Linked DNA regions of Homo sapiens. The protein of the gene in region 1 purifies or fractionates together with the protein of each later gene. This does not show direct contact. Each region holds a gene or a part of one and is shown on either strand. Other genes may lie near its edges.

Region 1 (4,838 bases):
GCTTCTCCCATGGAAGAGCAGTGCTCTGAAGCTCTAGGGTCAGGTCTTGGAGATTTCCAGCCCATTTTATAAAATTCTTCAATCAGAGATGTGGAAGGAGACACAGCCCAGAGAAACCACTGTTGGGAGCTGATAGAACTTCTTTTACCAAAAGGCTAAAAACAACACTGACATCAATGCAAGTTAGAGGCTTCCTTGCACCCCTAAAGTACCAGTTTCTTTGGTTTTGGACAAATCCACAAAGTATCTTTGAATATATGAAAGTCTCCATGGACAGTCACTTGGCACACTGATACATTCTCAGTGATAACCCAAGGCATCCACTAATCCTGCCAGCTGTTCCAACTATCAAAGAAAGATCCCTATTAACTCAAGTTCAGCTTGGAGCTAAATGTGGCTTCTGCTCTAATTCTTTGAAACTGGCACACTACACATGGTTCTGCACAGTTACTGATGCCCTTAACCAGAACACTGGGTTAGCCAGACTATTCCATCCCCCAGTCAAGTCTGAGAGCTGAGTTCACCATATTTTTAATAAATAACCCATTTAATATTTTTAAACCGCTGAGTCTTACAGAAATAAGGAGATTAAAATCAGCATAAGCCATCTGCAGAGACAAAGGAGAATGGCACGACCTCAGAGTTCCTAACACCCCAGATCATCATCCTGGCATTGGAATCTTTGCTGACTTAGTCGGAAGCAAAGCTGCAATCCCTGAGCTTTGTGTAAGTGTGATGGAAGCCAGGGCAGCGGGGCAGAGAGGGGCATCCCAGAGGCAGAGGCAGGAAGACTGAGAGTCTGCACAGGACCGTCACGGTCCCTCTCCTCTTGACCCATGACTAAGATGGGTCCACCTCGGATGTCCTTCCTCTTTACGTTGCCCTGGATGCTCAGTTTCCCAAATAATATCCACCTAGACCCAGGAACAGGGCAGGGAGGGAAGGGGCTCATAGTAGGGTCTGTCCATCTGAACAGGACCCTGCACCCTCTTGAGTAACATGGGCAGATGCCTGGCCTGATTTGTCCTAAATGAGGCCTGGGTCTGACGTGCCCCCACCCCTACAGGGGCCATTAGAGACCATGAAAGGGTTTATGGTCTCCAATGGGCAGCCACATAGCCCAGGAGTGGATGTTTCTCTCAGGTTCAGGGCAGGAGACACCGGTCTTTTTCACATGCTAAGCCCAAGAAAGGGGAGAGGTCAGCCCATCAGTCCTCAGGCCCCCAGTTCAGCCATGTAAGAGTGAAGCTGAGGCTTCCTGTTACCCTGAGAAGGAATCCTACCCACTGGAGGCCCCCTCCCTCCATTTGAGGACACTTAATGGAGAAGAGGGAGGAGGAACACTGTACCTGGACCACCAAAAGAAAAGCATCCCCCCAGAAGCTCACAACCTGGCTCCTGCAGACACGTAGCCTACCCCTGTGTCTGAGTTAAGATCATTTCTATCCAAGCAGCCAGCAGCCAGGCGGAGCCTGGCGTTTATCTGGTGGGGATTTGGTGAGCCAAATGCTACCTGTGTGAGAGTCACCTCAGCAACCCACCAGGTGCAAACAGCTGTGCCCCCAGCAAGGCACTCCATGGCCCTCATCTCAGGGCCCTCCGCTGGGAAGGATTTTAACTTATGGCTTTTGAGCAGTCAGGGAGGCAGCTGACCATGAAATACACTTGAATTCAGTCAATTCTGACAACTGAAATTGGCCCTTCAAGAATGAAACAGAAACAGAAATGTTTCTTTGTCCAGAGGGAGACACATGGAGACTTATGACATAGCATGGGCCATTTTGAAGCAGTGATTCGAGAGATCTACAGCCAATAATCTAACAAATAGAAGAGATCTGCATTATGCTTTAAAATAGCACCGGATGCCCAGAGAGAATAGCAGAGCACCAATTCTGACATCACCACCAGCAGTCAGACACCCCAGGTAACGCGGTTCAAAAGGAAAGTGATTTAAATATAGAAGCACACAGAGAAGGCTGTTTATGCCAGGAATGGGTACTGCTGCTAAACCAGATCCCATCTCCAGGGGTCATTTGCTTCCTCAACCTCAGGAGAGGCAGCAGCCCTGGCTCTGGGGGGAAGGAGGGGCATGGTATGAGACCACAGGCTTAAGGTGCAAGAAGAATGATTTAGGTCCGGTTAAAGAAAGTCTTCATCCCAAAGAAAAGCCTTGGTATCACTGCAGGTACATTTCCAGAAAGAACTAGGCATCAACCGCCTTATGAGCATCTAAATGAAGCCTGGAAGTGAAGAAATGAATTGGCAAACTAGACACCATCTCAACTAGAGAAAGAGATGTTTTTCTATTTAAGGGTCACTGATCCACAGGAAAAGAAATCAATGAAGGGCCTCCACAAATAAAAAGCAAACTAATTTAGTTTTGGAAGGAAACATAATATAAAATAACCCATTCATCCACTTCCTAAATCAAGAGCAAAGAAGATAAACCGTATTTAGCAAGAAATAAGACTGTGCTTTTTTTTTTTTTGAGACAGAGTCCCACTCTGTCACCCAGGCTGGAGTGCAGTGACACGACCTCAGCTCACTGCAACCTCTGCCTCCTGGGTTGAAGCAATTCTCCTGCCTCAGCCTTCTAAAGTGCTGGGATTACAGGTGTGAGCCACCACGCCCGGCCTGTGCTTTGATTTTATAGTATACCTAGCTATGAGAGAGAGACTGAAAGAGAAAAATGGAAATGAAATTATATTTTAAATCAGCATGAATTTCCTTGTGCTGAGCCCCTCCCCTCTCCCTCATCAAATTCAGATTTGCGTTCCTACTGCCCACAGACTTTCCATAGCTTTTATGACAATTATCAGGTGGGCCAAGCGGCTTTGTGGGGGCAGGTCTCATCTGGGCTGTCTCGCAAAGACCAGGGACCCAGTGAAACCACATGATGGTCACATTCAGCCCTCGTAGGGGTTCCATCTGCATCCAGGCCATCCCAATGGCCACTCGGAAAAAGCCCTTTGCAGGGCATTTTAAGGGGCCTGGAGCAGGGTTCCCATCCTGGCTGCACATCAGGCTCTCCCAGAAAGCTTTTGAAAAACACTGTTTCCCAGGTCCCACCAATGAACCAGGGTGTGCCTGGATTCTGATGAGAAACACAGTCCCAGGTTTGGGGTTGATCCAGGGTTTCTCAACCTTGACACTCTTGATATTTTGGCCTGGATCATTCCATGTTGGGAGGACCTGTCCTGTGTGTCTTGGGATGTTCAGCAACGTCTGTGGCCTCTACCGGCTGGGTGCCAGGTGTACCCCTCTCACCACCACCATAACCCCAGGCATCGCCAAGTGTCCCCTGGGGGGGCAGAATCGGCCCCAACAGAGACTGCTGTTTGGTTCTTTGTTGATTGTGCACCCTGCACACCCTGAAAAATGGCTTGAGCCTGGGCCTCGGTTACCCTGTCTGCCTAATGGGGTGCAGAACCCACAGGCCGTCTGCCCTGCAGACTCATCCAGCCTCAGCTCCCTGAAGACCTCCCAGCCCTGCAGGCAACCTCATTATCCCACTGAGATGTTGTTCTAAGGGTCAAAGACAGATGTTTCAGCCCAGATTAAGGATCTGGGGAGAAGAGAGGCTGCCAGAGCCCCCTGCATGCCGAGCAGAATGACACCACGCTCTCTGCCAGGCCTCTGTCCTTGCTACGGGTTGCTCCCCTCAACTCACAGTCTGTCTCCTCCTTTGCAGAGAAGAACTGTTCCTACTTCAGGCATTTTAACCCCGGCGAGAGCTCGGAGATCTTCGAATTCACCACTCAGAAGGGTGAGCCTGGGTGGAAAGGGGTCTGGGGTGACAAGAGGGGACTTCTGTGTTGTGCACCACTGGGCCAGAAAGTCATTGGCAAAAGCACTGACTTCCTCACGCCTGATGAGAAGAAGCCTGTGGTGCATTTGAACAACAGCCTTGTCAGCTCCCCGCTCCGGAGGCCCCAGGCAGCCGCCTTCCATCTCCAGGGCCCGGAGCTTCCACACCTCGGGGCCAGGGAGCGTTTGCAGAAGCAGCACCTCCTGGTAGGCCCCTACACAAGGGCAGCTGTTGTGACGGGAGGTGTGGATGTGGAACAAATGCTCAGAAGCCCCGTGGTGGCTCTTGGTGGCATGTGATAGTTAGAGTCTGCAGGGACAGTCTGAGTCCCTCCCTGGCCTAGAAATCCCTCCCTGAGTACCAGGAGGGTGCGGTGGGCTCTGGGAGCTTTTCAGGATCCGCAGAGCTCAGACGCACACCCATTGTCGGGAGTACAGACCCGTGCCTGCCTGCGCCCAGACAGCTGCACACAGGGTGAGTGGGCAGACACACAGACACACACTGACACACACAGACACACACAACACAGATACACACACACGACACACACAAGACACAGACGCACAGAGACACTGACACACACGCATGATGACACACAAAATGACACACAGTGACACAGACACACACTGATACACATGCATGATGACACACAAAATGACACACAGTGACACACACAGACACACACTGACACACACGTACAATGACACAGACACAGAGACACACACTGACACACACGTACAATGACAGACACAGAGACACACACTGACACATATGCATGACACACAATGACACACACAGACACTGACACACACACAGATACACACATACAATGACACACACAAGACAGACACAGAGACACACACTTGACACACACACAATGACACACACAGACACTGACACACACACTGTGGTGCATGGTGTGGTCCCTAACGAGCCATGACAAGAGCTCCCATGCTGAGGCCGCATGCTGGGTGTCCCTTGTGTTTGCAGAGTACAGCATCTCGGCAGCCGCCATCGCCATCTTCAGCCT
Region 2 (5,606 bases), on another chromosome or scaffold:
AGAACCTATCAACAATGTTCAGGGAGGACTTACTGTACTCCATTATGCAAGGGTGGGGAATAACACTAAAATATTTATCCATTCACATAGCGTGAATACAACTAATTGCATCCAGGTAAACCAGTTTCTGATATCCATTATGCAAATTAACAAACCACTAATTTCTACAGTGAAAACTCATTTCTAAAATTTGTTATGCAAGGACCTGGTGCAGTGGCTCATGCCTGTAATCCCAGCACTTTGGGAGGCTGAGGCAGGTAGATCACCTGAGTTTAAGAGTTCGAGACCAGCCTGGGCAACATGGCGAAACCCTGTCTCTACAAAAAGAATACAAAAATTAGCTGGGCGCCATGGCGCACACCTGTAGTCCCAGCTACTCGGGAGGCTGAGGCCTGAGAATCCTTGAACCTAGGAGGTCGAGGCTGCAGTTAGCTGAGATCGTGCCACTGCACAGCAGCCTGGGTGACAGAGCGAGACCCTGTCTCAAATAAATAAATAAACAAATAAATAAAATTTGTTATGCTAATTAACAAAGCTTGAGAAATCGATGGGCAATAAAGATAAAGATAGCTGAAGCCATTAGTGGCATCTCTGAAAGGCGGCCTTCTGATTAAATGCTAGCTGACCACCCTGGAGTAAGAGTTCTTGACTAACAAGGTGTATGACTTGAGTTCCATACATCCTGGAGTATGAAACTGACTAGTCCTAAGGCATAGGTTAAGACTAAACATTTGTATTACACTGTCTACATTGGAATATGTTAAACTAAATGACAGAATCATAGCATCACAAAACTATATAAAACGACCTTGGTCCACAGATGTCCTATAACCCATGGTCATACGTGCAACTGGGTTCCTTTTCCTTATTTAAAACTCTTTACTCACTCTTTATCTTACCTGACACTCAGCCCTCCTGCTTCTATCCTGAAGTCAGTGTCTGTAGTCTCAGACACAGGAAGGGAAGAAAGCCTTGAGAGACAAGAACAACCTAGGGGAGTCAGCCAAGTACAGACTCTCCATCAGAGTGGCTGAACTAAATCCATCAAAAATGATCCTCAGAATTGTCCAGTGTCCTTTTTTCAGGCCATATGCAATTGTATAATAAAATTACTTTTAATTACCTAGCCTCTTAAAAAAAAGAAAGTGGCCTCATTGCCTTTCTAGATTTATTTGTCATGTACCTATTGGTTATGAATTAACATATCTAGATTGTTTTTTCATAGATTGAGTGAAAATATAATTTTATGATCTTAAACTGGCTTTTATATATGGCTGCTCCCTCTCTTAAGAACTAAGACCTGCTGCCATTGCAAAGGGGAATTGGATAAAATTTTGAAGTCTCTAAGGGGTGGCAAATCACAGTTTAAGTGCTTAGAGCAGCATGAGGTTTACTGGGTGCTTGGGAAGGAGAATTGTACAAAATGATGTCAGATTGCTCAAGACTTACATTTTTGCCTGTTTTGGGCTTGGATCTTGTGAAAGGAGAAAGGCCTTTCTTATTTCTTTAGTTTCCTTAGTTCTCACTATTCAGAATTCAGGTAAGTGCTGTTAATAGAAGAAGCTCATTTGGATAAAAGAGGCTTATGTGGACAATTCTGTGGACCTAACAACAATTTATAATCTTGTTTCATGAAAACCTCCCACAACTGACCCACTGGATGATTTGTGGATCACAGTCTGTTTTTAAGTTGAGGACTTATTGCTGTGTCTTAGATTTGAGTCTAGAAGCCAGAACATTGCATTTGTCTCAAGCCGGTGTCTCTGTGGAGGTCAAGTTCTGTCCACATGGCATTGAGTTCACTGGCTAACCTACGATCATTCACCATCATCAGAAAGCATTTGGTAAACATGCATGCTTAACTGGGTTAAAATTAAACAGTCAGAGTATAAAGTAAGCAAGTTCTCAGCCCATGCTCTCCTAGCAGTTAAAATCTAAAACTTTAGATTAGGAGCCAGATAGTGACCTATGATAGTCCAAACTACTCCCAGCAACTCCAGTTTGTTGTTTCTTTATGTGTAGTCCAAAGAAGGAAAAGCATGCAGAGTTCTTATACCCAGGCAGGCACCCTGGAGAGAGTTCAAAGATTTACAGGCTCTGAATGAAGGAATGCTGCTTACATAGGCACTTCTGGTTGAATGCAACTTATGATTTTGTTATTTTATTCGGAATCTGTTTTGGAATATAAATGATTATAAATGCTGGAAATATAGTGCTTTGAATGAAAATACAACTTGTTAGACCGGGCACGGTGGCTCACGCCTGTAATCCCAGCACTTTGGGAGGCTGAGGCAGGCAGATCACCTGGGGTTGGGAGTTCGAGACCAGCCTGGCAAACATGGAAAAACCCTGTCTCTATTAAAAATACAAAATTAGCCGGGCCTGTTGGTGCATGCCTGTAATCCCAGCTACTCAGGAGGCTGAGACAGGAGAATCACTTGAACTCGGGAAGTGGAGGTTGCGGTGAGCCAAGATTGTGCCATTGCACTCCAGCCTGGACAACAAGAGCAAAACTCTGTCTCAAAAAAAAAAAAAAAAAAAAAAGAAAATATAACTTGTTAAACATAGATAGGGTTATATTTGAACAATGATTTATCTTTTTTGAATAATCATTTATCTTTAAGAAATTTACCCACACATATACAGTACCCTTACCATTTCTTCTGTGTATATTTTAAATTTTCCTGTGGTTTTCTAGTAAGACATAGGTAGACGAAAAACCAGTATTTTGTTTTCCTTAAGGAATAATATAGAGAAATAATCCTAGTTTTAATAATCCTTGTTTCAATCCAGTTTTTGTTTGTTTGTTTGTTTGTTTTTGAGACGAAGTTTTGCTCTTGTTGCCCAGGCTGGAGTGCAATGGCGTGATCTCGGCTCACTGCAACCTCCACCTCCCGGGTTCAAGCGATTCTCCTGCCTCAGCCTTCCAAGTAGCTGGGATTATAGGCATACACCACCATGCCCAGCTAATTTTGTATTTTTAGTAGAGACAGGGTTTCACTATGTTGGCCAGGCTGGTCTCGAACTCCTGATCTCAGGTGATCCACCCACCTTGGCCTCCCAAAGTGCTGGGATTACAGATGTGAGCCACTGTGCCTGGCCAATCCAAATATTTAATACACCACCCCTTAACTTCTAAAGAAACTGAGTTGGGGATATTGTTACTTATTTTAACCAAACATCAGAGAGATTGTTCCTTCCTCAAAGTAATGTGTATTTGGCAAGTGGTAGGGCAGAAACTGAAACCTGGGTCTTCCTGTTTCCAAATCCAGTGTTCTTTCCCTTATTTCATCCCAGCTGCCTAAGCGTCATGGTATCATGCAGCATGTAATTATTAAGTTAACTCTTTTAAATCACCGCTGTAAAGTATCTTTTATGTATTTGTCTTTCTGTTTGCAGGGATGGAGGACTAAAGAGAGCAAAGGTGAAGGACATCTTTAAGGAAGAGCAGCAGAAAAATTACAGCAAGATGATTGTGGGCAATGGATCTCTCAGCTAAGAGGACGGATGACAGCCTTTAGATCTAGAACTAGCCCTTAGAAATGGAATGGCTTTTTTTGTTTTGTTTTGTTTTATTGTTTTGTTTTTATTATTGTTAATCTTTTCTACAGAATGATTGTCTCTACCTCTTTATGCCAGAGGCAGAACCTACAGGTGCCCTTTTTGGCTTTTGTTGTTGTTGTAACATTAGCCCCATGGATTGTAAGGTGGTTTACTGAGTTAAAACAGATTCTGCTTTTGTAAAATGATGGCATCACTGTGGACTGAATGAAATATTTGTATAGAAAAAAGTGCTTGAAAAGTGTGTTTGGAACTCATCGATAGGGTAATTCTCCAAAAATGCCCAAACTCTTTTTCTGTAATTAGCCTTGCCACTTTCTTCAGTCACTTAAATGGTGAGATTACACATCAGTGCAAGATGACCATTATGGTTATGGTCTACTGCAAGGTTGAAAGGAAAAATGGAGGATTGTATTTAGGAAAAGGGACAACTTTGTGGCCACCTGCTCTGAAAGTCAAAAGGAAATGTAAATTAGTGTCATTAGTGTGTTGGAAGAGAAATACTATTCAGTAAGCTTCGCCAAAGAAAAGTGAGTCAAAGTTAATGTGTGTGCGCATTTATATGTAGGCAGCTCGTAGACCACATTTTAACCAGCAACTGGTAACAAAGAGCTTAGTTTTCCTTGTTTGAATGCTGTAGATCTGTACCTAGTACCCCTCCCATCTACTGATTTGTTTGTTTTTGTAACCAAACACATTTTCAGATAGAAGGAGCCTTAAAAAAAAAAAATCACATTGAGTAACTTCAGTATGAATGAATGAGAGTGTGTGGAGCTACCCCTCACCCTCCACCCCTTTGTGCTTTTTATTCCCGAATTTTCCCAGTCTCTTAAACAGAAAAATGACTGATATAATTATCTTTTGGAAACTGAGCCTTAATTTTTTTTAGAGGGGGAAATAAGTTTTCCCCAACTCACACAGCATAAGCAATGTTTGACAGCAATATAATGCCGTTGTAAACTACTGAGAGTATTGTATCTGTTCTGGTAACCATGTACAGAATGTGAAACTGTCTTATGAATATAAATAAATTCTATATTTCTAAATGTGTGTTGCATTATTCCCCCTTCCCTTCCCCCCTTTTCTGGTTTTGAGTAAGTTAAATTCTTTCCTATTACAAACAAGGGTTGTTTGTTTTTCATTTCAGTGACATAGTTAGATTTTATTGGACTGGAACAAATGGGAAACAAGAACATGAGCCACTGATTCTCCCCCTCCCCTCCCGCCGCTTAAATCTTTTTTTCAGTCTAGTCATTTGGACTCTGGCCCTGTGAACTCCACCTTGAGCAATGTCACAGACTACAGTTATTTTGCAGGTGAATTAAGGCAATTATATCTAACTATCTAGGTAGGCCTGGCATAGCACTATCAGTATATACTCTTCTTATCTATCTAGCTAGTTGGATTTCATCCCAAAAGAAAACTTGCAAATAGGTTACTCTCATGGCCATCCACCTCTCTGTTCTCACTCTCCCCACTTTCCCTTTGTTGTTTGGTGAAATTTTGCCCCACAAACTCTATTAGGAGTGGTCTTGACTGAAAATTAGCAAATCCAAATATGTATGTTGGGTGACATTTTGTCTTAATTTTTTTCCTCAGAGAAAGGAGTGCCTTTTTTTTTTTGTAAATTCTATGTTAATTATGGCTTGAATTAACAAATCTATTTCATTAGCCCAATTCTCAGACAAGTGTATCTTTCCAAAAGCACTGTAAAAATAACAGTGCTATCATGTATTCACTAGATAACCTAATAGTGTCTCAATCTGAACTTTTGTCTTCTACAAGACTGATTTACACAACTAGGTTTCAGGTTGCTTGAGGAATTGCCATGTTGTTGAAACCATGTTTTTGGAAAGCTGATATTGCTCAGATTTAGTGTATGCTCCTTAGAGCTCCTTTTATGTTTGCTTTCACTAATATTATTCCATACCCACTTTAGAGATATTGTGTCCAGAGTTTAGTATTCCTGAGTCTTCCCTAATTGTAAGGCAATATGAAGGGAAGGCAGGATTTGGTAGAAAAATCTCATCAGATAAGTAAGACCT
Region 3 (4,838 bases), on another chromosome or scaffold:
AAACAACTAGGAAACTTAGTCAAAATATAGATTTCTAGAGTTAGTAGGTCTGCGATGGGGCCTGAGTGGGGGCATAGAATAAGAATCCAAGAAAATGATGATACTATTTCTAGAAATGAAAAAATTGAAACAATGAGCTGATTTATGATACACAGAGTAATCATGACAGTAAATCATCTAAACATATACATGTTTTAGCTCTGGGTCCTAACATTTAGTTACAGATTCCTCTGGGGACAAGATTCTTAACCTGGGTTCCTGACACACCTGGAAAATGTATAGAAGAGTTTCCAGGAGTCCATGAACCAACTAATACTGTATTAGTAAGAGGTTAAGAATGCTGGGCACAGTGGCTCACACCTGTAATCCCAGCACTCTGGGAGGTTAAGGTGGGAGAATAGTTTAAGCCTGAGGTTGAGGCTGCACAGAGCTGTGACCATGCGACTGCACTCTAGCCTGGATGACAGAGGGAGACCCTGCCTCTCAAACAACAACAAGGAAAGAAAGAAAAAGTTAAGAACTCCTGGATTAAGCAGAACTGACCTGAAGAAAGTTAGAAAACTTGGGTGAAAGGCTGGGCCTAAAAACAGACCAGAAAGAATTCACTGAGGAAAAGTGAATTTGTACAGTGCTTTTCAGACTATCTCACCTTGGTACCCCTAGTTAACTGCAAAAAAAATAAAGAGTAAACCTTCTACACTGTGAAGTTGATGGTACCTAGCTCAGGGCAGATATTGGAAAAACCGTTGCCCAAGAATTTAAAAAAAAAAAAAAAAGACATGGTCCAGTGAATAAGGAATACGAAAAAATTAAGGAAACAGAACAATCTCAAGGATTGGGATAAATAAGTCAAGTGGATATTATAGCACCCAACTTAGAAAGAGAATCTTACAAGGAAGAAGCCAAAAATGTCCACTACCACACGTGTCTGCACAACATATAATAGGAGAGGCTAGATATGATTCATTTTTCTGTCATGAAACAGGATCCATTTTGTTTGAAGTCAAGGTTGGCAGTGAGATAGGAGGGGAGTGAACTCTACAGCACTGAAAACTATACACATATATGAGGTTTAAATTACTGATCAGGTTCTTGCCTGTAACAGCAACTATCTTTTACCTACTGATTGTCAGACACAATGCTAGGCACCAAAGACACTTTACAGCTGATCCTTCAAACACACTGAAAGGTATTTATTATCATACCCATTTGACCAGCTAGTAAAGACACAGGTAGGCTAATCAACTCCCCTCACATCATACTGTAGGTGAGACACTAGGCTAGGTCTTCAAAGTGTGGGCTGTTAACTCCAGAGAGAGTGCTTCCTACACCAACAGGGCTTTCCAAGCCACACTCTGGAAAGTGCTAGGGTTTCTGGGGTGGCCACCGTGAGGAACATGGAGAAGTGATTAGTCAGGAAGTGTAACTCTGAAGAGACTGGCATCTGGAGTCACAGGCTGGGATTTGAATCCCAGTCCTGGCTAAGTATCTGTGGCCAAGTGACTTAAGCTCTCTGTGCTTCTGTTTCCTCATCTATAAAGTGAGAATAACAATGGGATTGACTTCATACCATTGTGAGAGGTAAGAACAGTGCATGGCATTTAGTAAGATCTCAATGAATGAGAGATACTATTTCTATTATTCTTACAAGAGGAAAGGCAAGCAGGAGGGCCACTGGTCCTCACCCTCACTTTGACCACAAAGATCTTCTTTCATTTATTCCATAAATTGAATTTCCTCATGAGATGTCTCTTACAGAAAACAATCCTTTGATTTAATAAAAAGGAGGATAACAACAAAGTTTAAAAACCATCACGTTACATTTTACCTGTATCACTGAAATCTATGAATTCTTTTGACAGCAGGTTAGTAAGAAGTTCCATAATGAGAAGCAGGTCTTGGTATTGCTCTTCTTCTGCTGTAACATCTATTCTTTGCCGCCCTAAATTATTCTTAGAATACACTTGCAACAAAGTAAGGCAGGCTTCATATAAGTTCATAGCTTTGGACTGAAAAAAAAAAAAATGCACAAATTATGCTACTTGGTACACTGACATTAAAAAAATTTTAAAATATAATCTATATAAATTAACTCCGAATTCCAACAGTAGCAATAATTCTTGCTTTAAACTACATTAAAACAATAATTTCTAGAAAGCATATATTAAGAGTATATTTTTTTTAATTTTACCCCTTTTCTAACAAAATTTTAGGACAAGAATTTATATTCAGGTGCAGCAAACCACCATGGCATACATATACCTATGTAACAAATCTGAACGTTCTGTATATGTATCCTGTTTCCTTTTAGAAGAAATTAAAAAAAAAATTTACATTCATTCAACATGACTTTCTCTAAATTATAAGTTCTTTTCAAAAATCTTTTTTAAAAATCTTTTGAAGGAATAAAAATATTATTTAAGATAATACTAATCAAATTTTAAGCAAAGATCTATTATTTTATTACAGCTTCAAAGAGTTTTAATCCTGAGGGGATAAAATTAGAAAGTGCTTACCTCTCCAAGATAGCATATCTGTTTATGTGCAACTTCAACAAAAACTTCTATAATGAGATTGACAGTCTCTGGGGTATTCTTGTAAACTTCCATCAATCCAATGCAATTGGTAAGGAAGTCCATTAAAAAATTAAACAGGATTGCTACGTTGTCAATCTGGGTAGCCTCAGCAATGCCACACAGGGCCTCTAGTGTGGCAGTGATTTCCTGCTTGACTTCCTCTTGCTGACACATCTGCTGGAAGTTTTCTTGGTTTATCACTCTTAAGAATCGCTGCTGAAGTGGCTGAAGAACCTATAAAAATAAACCAGGAATTTTCTTAAAGCTCAGTTCTCATGCTTTATTTCCTCTGCTTGGATACATATTCACTTTCCAAAACATTTCTAATTGTTGGAGGCAGGACAAGCACATAACAAAGAATATCTAAACCAGACTTTACACTCCCCATTTTGAGGGTCATCCTAACTTTCCGCTCATGTAAAGCCAGAACACCCAAAGCATGGGACATAACTGTCTCCCTGCCATTCAAAGAATTCTGCCATTTCCCTCCATCTCTTTCCAAGTAATGAGTCAAAAAGGAAAAAAAACTTTGTTTACAAAATCAGACAGTAAGCCACATTTGGCCCATGGGCTGCAGCTTGCCGACCTCTACAGAGTGAAGCCCAATTCAAAGTTCTTGTCTGTTTTTTTCCTTTTTCCTTTACCTAATTCCTCTTGGCACAGAACGTAACTTCAGATAATCAGTCCTGCCCTGTATATAAGAGTACTCATATTCAAGAGGACAGTATCTTAATTCGACTTTAAGTTGTCCATATGATAATACAATTGTTTAAAATAAAAATACTTAGTCAGTCTGGTTTCCCCTGGATTTGAAGTCACAAACAACTGCCTAATTCCATTACTGTGCCCCTTCTCAAACACTAAGGGCCCTCTAGACAAGGACTGCAGGCTGGCAACCTACACACACTGGCAACTCTTGGCCCTTGATTTAAAGCCTATTAAATAATGTGCCCATGGTTGTTGTTATGGGTCAAACTGTGTTCCTCAAAAACTCATATGTGGAAATCCAAACCCCAGGATATGAACTTATTTGATAATAGAGTTGGCCGGATGCAGTGGCTCACACCTGTAATCCCAACGTTTTGGAAGGCTGAGGTGGGCGGATCACTTGAGGTCAGGAGACCAGCCTGGCCAACATGGCAAAACCCCGTCTCTACTAAAAATACAAAAATTAGCCAGGCATGGTGGTGCGCACCTGTAATCCCACCTACTTAGGAGGCTGAGACAGGAGAGTCGCTTGACCCAGGAGGTGGAGGTTGCAGTGAGCCAAGATCACACCACTGCACTCCAGCCTGAGTGACAGAGCAAGACTCCGTCTCAAAAAAAAAGAAAATAGGGTTGTCATAGATGTAATTAGTTCAGATGAGGTCATACCGGAATAGGGTGGGCCCCTAGTTCAATATAACTGATATAGAAAGGGGAAGTGTGGATGCAGACACACACAGGGGGAGCATGTGAAGATGAAGGCAGGGATCAGGGTGATGCGTTTACAAATCAAGGAATGCCAAAGACTGCCAGCAAGCTACCAGAGGCTACAGATTTTCCCTCATAGCCTTCAGAAAGAACAAATCCCATGGACACCTTATAGCTTGGACTTCTAGCCTCCAGAAGTAGGAGAAAACAAATTTCTGTTGTGGTATTTTGTTAGAGCAGCCCTAGGAAATGAATATCATGGTTAATCTGCATCTTATTCAAGACAGGAGAATATTTCCCTGATCCCTAATGAAAATTTAATAAGCCAGTCCATGCTCTCGACTGAGTTGTGAAAAATGTGCCTAAAATGCAGAACACTTGATAATATTCAATGTCATCACACACAGGCAGGTACAGAAAAATTATAAGACAACATTTGTAAAATAAGAAGCTTCAACCCATTCATTAGGAGAAAAAATATCAGAAAAGCTATGACTGGGCCGGGCACAGTGGCTGGTCACATCTGTAATCCCAGCACTTTGGGAGGCCAAGGCGGGCAGATTGCTTGAGGCCAGGAGTTCGAGACCAGCCTGGCCAACATGGCAAAAGCCCGTCTCTACTAAAAAAAACAAAAATTAGCTGGGTATGGTGGCATGAGTCTGTAGTCCCAGCCACTTGGGAGGCTGAGGCAGGAGAATCGCTTGAACCTGGGAGGTAGAGGCTGCAATGAGCTGAGACTGCACCACTGTACTCCAGCCTGGGCAACAGAGTAAGACCCTATCTCAGAAAAAAAAAAAAAAGAAAGAAAGAAAGAAAGAAAAGCTATGACTGATACATTTATGTCTCCAG
Region 4 (4,838 bases), on another chromosome or scaffold:
TTAACTCCGTTTTCTTCCCCCTGACTTCTGCCGTGGGTGCCTATGAGATACGATAGCTGTCTAATGAGATTAATAGCCACTGTACACTGGTACACAGGTTGTGATGATGCTGTTAGTGGTAATGAGCCCCTCTTTGGTCACCCCCTCATGCCTGGTTAAGCACCCAACTCAACAAAAATTAGCTGGATATGGTGGCTACTCCGGAGGCTGAGGTGGGAGGATGGCTGGAGCCTGGGAAGTCGAGGCTGCAGTGAGCCACGATCATGCCACTACACTCCAGCCTGGGCAACAGAACGAGACCCTGTCACAGTAAATAAGTAAATAAATAAAAATTAAAAAAACACCTAGATCTTAGGAGGCTGCTTGGGTTTAGTAATCATTTCAGAGGCTGTCTGGCTTTCAGCAGAAGTAGGTACTTTTCCTACTAAAGTACCTACTAAGTACTTACTCAGTGGGAAAGTACCTACTAAGGTTTAACCAGGCGTGAGTACTTAGTAGGTACTTTCCCACTAAAGTAGGTACTTTCCTACTAAAGTAAGTACTTAGTAGGTACTTCACTGGGAAAGTACCTACTTCCATTGAAATCTGACTAGAGATTTGATCTGACAGGTGGTAAACTAGTGAACAGACATTAGTTTTTATTTTTTCTATGTAATTCTGTTAGGGTTTGTCATACCTACATCTTATTTCTAGTATTCACATGGCGGGGGGTAGAGAGGGAATTTTAATATAGTCATCTTTGAGCATTTGTTAGGATTGGGCCAGCACCTAGGCCACTCTGTAATTTTTTCCCACAGACCTCAGTGGGGTAAGTCTTACAATATCTGCTGAAAATGTTTATAATGCTGTTGCTTAAATAGAGTTCTGGGTGCATATATCAAGGCTAGATATTTGTAATCTACCATTTGAGTGATATTAGTAGCTTCTCACTGACCTGGGGGTCTCATCTAAGACATCTAAAGCTTCAGACTGAGCCCCATTGGTCTTAACTGGGGTAACAGTTTGCTTAGACCGTCTGGGCTGAAGTAGTTTTGAATTCTCTCTGTGATATTCAGGCGTTTCTCTGGACCTTAGATAACCTGGGTCTGAGTTGGATTTTACTCTCAAGCTAAGTGCTGTGGTCCTCCCCGCAGTTAGTATTGTAAAGAAGAGGAAGGATAGTGGGAATGTGCTAATGTGGTTTAGTTGGCTGGGGCCCTCATTCACCCAGGATGTGTCTCTTTTCTTACTTGTTCTCTCAGACAAAGAATTCACTGTTCGGCTGGAGACAGAGAAGCGGCTGCACACGGTGGGCGAGCCGGTGGAGTTCAGATGCATCCTGGAGGCTCAGAATGTTCCCGACCGTTACTTTGCTGTCTCCTGGGCCTTCAACAGCTCGCTCATCGCCACCATGGGTCCTAACGCTGTGCCTGTCCTCAACAGCGAATTTGCTCACCGGGAAGCCAGGGGACAGCTTAAGGTGGCCAAAGAGAGCGACAGTGTCTTTGTGCTGAAGATCTACCACCTCCGCCAGGAAGATAGCGGGAAATACAACTGCCGGGTGACTGAGCGAGAGAAAACCGTGACCGGGGAATTCATTGATAAGGAGAGCAAGCGTCCCAAGAACATCCCCATCATAGTCCTCCCCCTCAGTAAGTAGAGAGATGTGCTGCTTTCTTCTCCTTTGGCTCAGCATCATTTAGGAGAGGTAGGGGGAGAGAGAATAGCGTGGTGAAGGTGAGGGGAGGCAGATGGAACCCTCGAGGTTAATGCAGAGCTGGGGGAAAAACCATTGAGCCTCTCTTCCCTGTTGTAGCCCACCTGCATACATGTAGCAGGCTCCCCATAGCAGAGGATCAGGATCAGGGGTGTCCAGAATCAGGGCAGTCTAGGGCTGGGCATAGGCCTATCTGATTGCTAGCAGCCCTGTGCATACACAAGCAGTGCCAGCTCAGCTTGGAGGGAAACCAGGAATCCCAGAAAGCTGTTTGCTCTTGTGTGGGAATCAAGTCCCAGAAGAAGTGGGTAGATGCCTGCCTTGAAATCTCACTTAAGGAGAGTTGGTCTTTTATGGGAGGATTTTAAATCATAAAGTGCATTATTAAGGATTTGCCATCTGGGTTTTTCAGGTATAAAGGCTGGCATTTCCCTAAATGGCTTTTCCCTGTTGAAATTGTGTTTCTAAAAGTCGGTGGATGGGACCTCTCACATCTTCCTGGAGCATAGCCTTTTAAGCTTAGCTGATTTCTGAGGCTGCCTCAGTGGGCTCCCCAGCCTTCATGTAGACTGGCCTTGTGTGGGTGGGTAGTGGCCATTGCTAGGGATTCCAGAAACTACTGGTGTTTGCTTGTGTTGTGTTTAAACATTCATAGTATCAAGATATTCTTATTAATCTCATTCTCCCATAGTTCTGTTTTTAGTAAAGAGAATAAAAACCTATAATGCTCTGATTTTAAACAAGTGGTAAAGTTTTAAGACTAACCTTTAACCTTGTCTCAGCTGCTCAAACTATTCTTTCTCTGAGCCTTGTAATAATTTCCTTTACTTTTTATTTATATGTTTTAATATTTAAAATATTTCTCTTCAAGTGTGATATTTCTCTTCAAGTAGCCACAGCGGTCCTCTTGTCAGTCTTTTCTTCTTTTCTCATCAACTGGATTATTTTCTTTTTATGCTTATTATTATTTTGTTAAAAACCATGCACACACATACCTAATTATCTTGAAATTCTTTTGTTTCTTAGCTTTTTCCGCCCTGCAATGCCTAGCATGGTGCTTTGCATAGAGTAGGTGCTCGCTGAATACTGTACAACTGAAATTATTGAATTGAATGCCCACTGTCTTTACTATTTTCCTGTCAGTCTGTGCTTGCCTTAACCACGGACTCTACTTTTAAATCTGCAACTAATTCCTCATTGTTTTCTAAGGATCAAGTGAAGGGCAGCCACGCTGTTTACTTCCTATATTTTTTGTACTAAGATTTCCCCCAACCCCTTCTGAGAACTTGTTTGATGATCTGTGGCCTGCTATATTGCTTTTCCAGCAGATAACTGGGTAGTTAAAGTCCCCCAGCACCACCAGCTCCTGTCCCAAGGCCACTTGGGTAAGTCTGCCGAAGAACAACAACAATCACATCGGTAATGGTGACAATGCCTTGGATTTTAATGGCGCTTTTCCTCCTAAGAGACCAAAGTGCTTCTGCATATATCATCTCCTTCTCCGCTCCCACCTCTCAAATCCTCGTAGAGGCCAATATGATATCCATCTAATGAATGAAGAAATCAGAGCACCACACAGGAAGTGACAGAGCTGATTGTTCAGTTAGTGGTTGAGCTTGCATTGCATTAGGAAATATTTGCTTCTAACTCCACACCCACCGCCCTGCGCTTAGCCTGTGCTACACCGTCAACTTCCTGATTTGAAATTTCATTTGTGAATGTGTACTCAGATTTTTATTAGTTCTGTCCTAGTTTTCACTTAATCCAGAGAGTTTAAAATTGTCGGCTGCCTTTTCTCAGGCCTGGAAATTCTTGTAAATAGTGTTAGTGGGCAGTGAGGCACCAGGTCTGTAGTTGCCTTTGCCTCAGCTGCTATAATAAAATAGCATTTCTTCTTGTAGCCCCACATTCTAACTATGTGGGTTTCCAGGCTTGCTCAAGCAACAGACACCACCAAACAGTAGCCCTTTCAATAAATGAGCCAGGACTTGGATAAGCGTCCACTGGGATGACAGTAGGGGATGAGAGTGAGGTCCTGCAAGTCATTCTTCTGCTTAATACAAGTGAAAGGATTTTCTTCCTTGATGCTGCAGTTGCCCTTTTAATCCCTTATTTTGAATTGATAACAGTGGGGATGAGTCTTTAATCTAAAGAGGAATATTGTTGTTATTAATGATGATGAAAAATAAGTACCTCATCTGATCCTCTCAATGTCATGCCCTAAGAAGTAGGCACTATTAGTATCTCCATTTTGCACATGAGAAATTGGAGCTTTGGTAGGTTAAGGAAGAACCACAGGATTACAGAGTTAGGAAGTCTCCAAATCCATCCCCTTAACCATTAGTGCTATAGATGGTGACTGTTCAGGAGCCTGATCATCTCTATGAATCATCCTGGTATGAGTCCTGGGGGAGGTTGCCCTCCTAGGAAAATTGCTATTCCCTGCCCCATCCAGACCTTTTATTTTTCACATAAAACAAGCAAATCCAGAATGGATAGCAGGCATCCTCACTATAATAAGAGCTACATGTGGAGGCTCAGTGCTCGTCTTTGTTTCTGCTTGTTGGGGAAATAAAGGAGAGAAAAGATTTGATTCAAATGCATTGTTATGTGTATGTGTGTGTTTTCTCTTGGTAATTGGGTGTGCCTCTTAAAATCTGGGATTTGATTTAATTAATTGGTTTAAAATTATTGCATGTATTTAATGTGGGTGGTACCCAAAAATTGGAGCCAAATTAGTTACTTTGTGTTCTTTAATACTTACAGACCTTCTGAACTCAATATAGATAATTATACAAAATACTACATGTATAATTAAAACATATTAGGCTATCTGTGATGTTTATAAAAACAAAGAGTTATGTGGAATAGTAAAATTAATCATGATCATGATGACCAGTTTTTGAAAACCTACTATGTGTTAGGTGAATCTATATGCATCATCTCATTTACTTTTTAATATTTAAAGAATTCTACAGTTAAAGGTGGCTCTCTACCTGTCTTACAGAAGAAGAGGCTGAGGCATGTCGAGTTTAAATAATTTGATTGAGTGAATTCAGATAGTTAAGTGAGCAGCAGAGGCTAGATGAGACAGGGAAGGGAGTGGAATCCTTATCCCAAACTTTTGATTGGCCAAATGTTT

Evidence for each region. Proteins that work in one complex are often made in the same cells at the same time.
Region 2: the proteins of CACNG1 (region 1) and GPAT3 purify together in Homo sapiens (affinity purification with mass spectrometry; one large-scale study listed by BioGRID and IntAct). This does not show direct contact.
Region 3: the proteins of CACNG1 (region 1) and XPO4 purify together in Homo sapiens (affinity purification with mass spectrometry; one large-scale study listed by BioGRID and IntAct). This does not show direct contact.
Region 4: the proteins of CACNG1 (region 1) and IGSF3 purify together in Homo sapiens (affinity purification with mass spectrometry; one large-scale study listed by BioGRID and IntAct). This does not show direct contact.

The regions. Positions count from the first base shown.
Region 1 is NC_000017.11:67,050,305-67,055,142, forward strand, and holds part of CACNG1 (voltage-dependent calcium channel gamma-1 subunit), read left to right. Parts: intron 1-3,691; coding exon 3,692-3,766; intron 3,767-4,798; coding exon 4,799-4,838. UniProt on the Homo sapiens protein: Regulatory subunit of the voltage-gated calcium channel that gives rise to L-type calcium currents in skeletal muscle. Regulates channel inactivation kinetics.
Region 2 is NC_000004.12:83,601,269-83,606,874, forward strand, and holds the end of GPAT3 (glycerol-3-phosphate acyltransferase 3), read left to right. Parts: intron 1-3,399; coding exon 3,400-3,499; 3' UTR 3,500-4,607; downstream 4,608-5,606. UniProt on the Homo sapiens protein: Converts glycerol-3-phosphate to 1-acyl-sn-glycerol-3-phosphate (lysophosphatidic acid or LPA) by incorporating an acyl moiety at the sn-1 position of the glycerol backbone.
Region 3 is NC_000013.11:20,794,248-20,799,085, forward strand, and holds part of XPO4 (exportin-4), read right to left. Parts: intron 2,811-4,838; coding exon 2,517-2,810; intron 2,010-2,516; coding exon 1,829-2,009; intron 1-1,828. UniProt on the Homo sapiens protein: Mediates the nuclear export of proteins (cargos), such as EIF5A, SMAD3 and isoform M2 of PKM (PKM2). In the nucleus binds cooperatively to its cargo and to the GTPase Ran in its active GTP-bound form.
Region 4 is NC_000001.11:116,604,735-116,609,572, reverse strand, and holds part of IGSF3 (immunoglobulin superfamily member 3 isoform 2 precursor), read left to right. Parts: intron 1-1,241; coding exon 1,242-1,631; intron 1,632-3,021; coding exon of another isoform or gene 3,022-3,081; intron 3,082-4,838.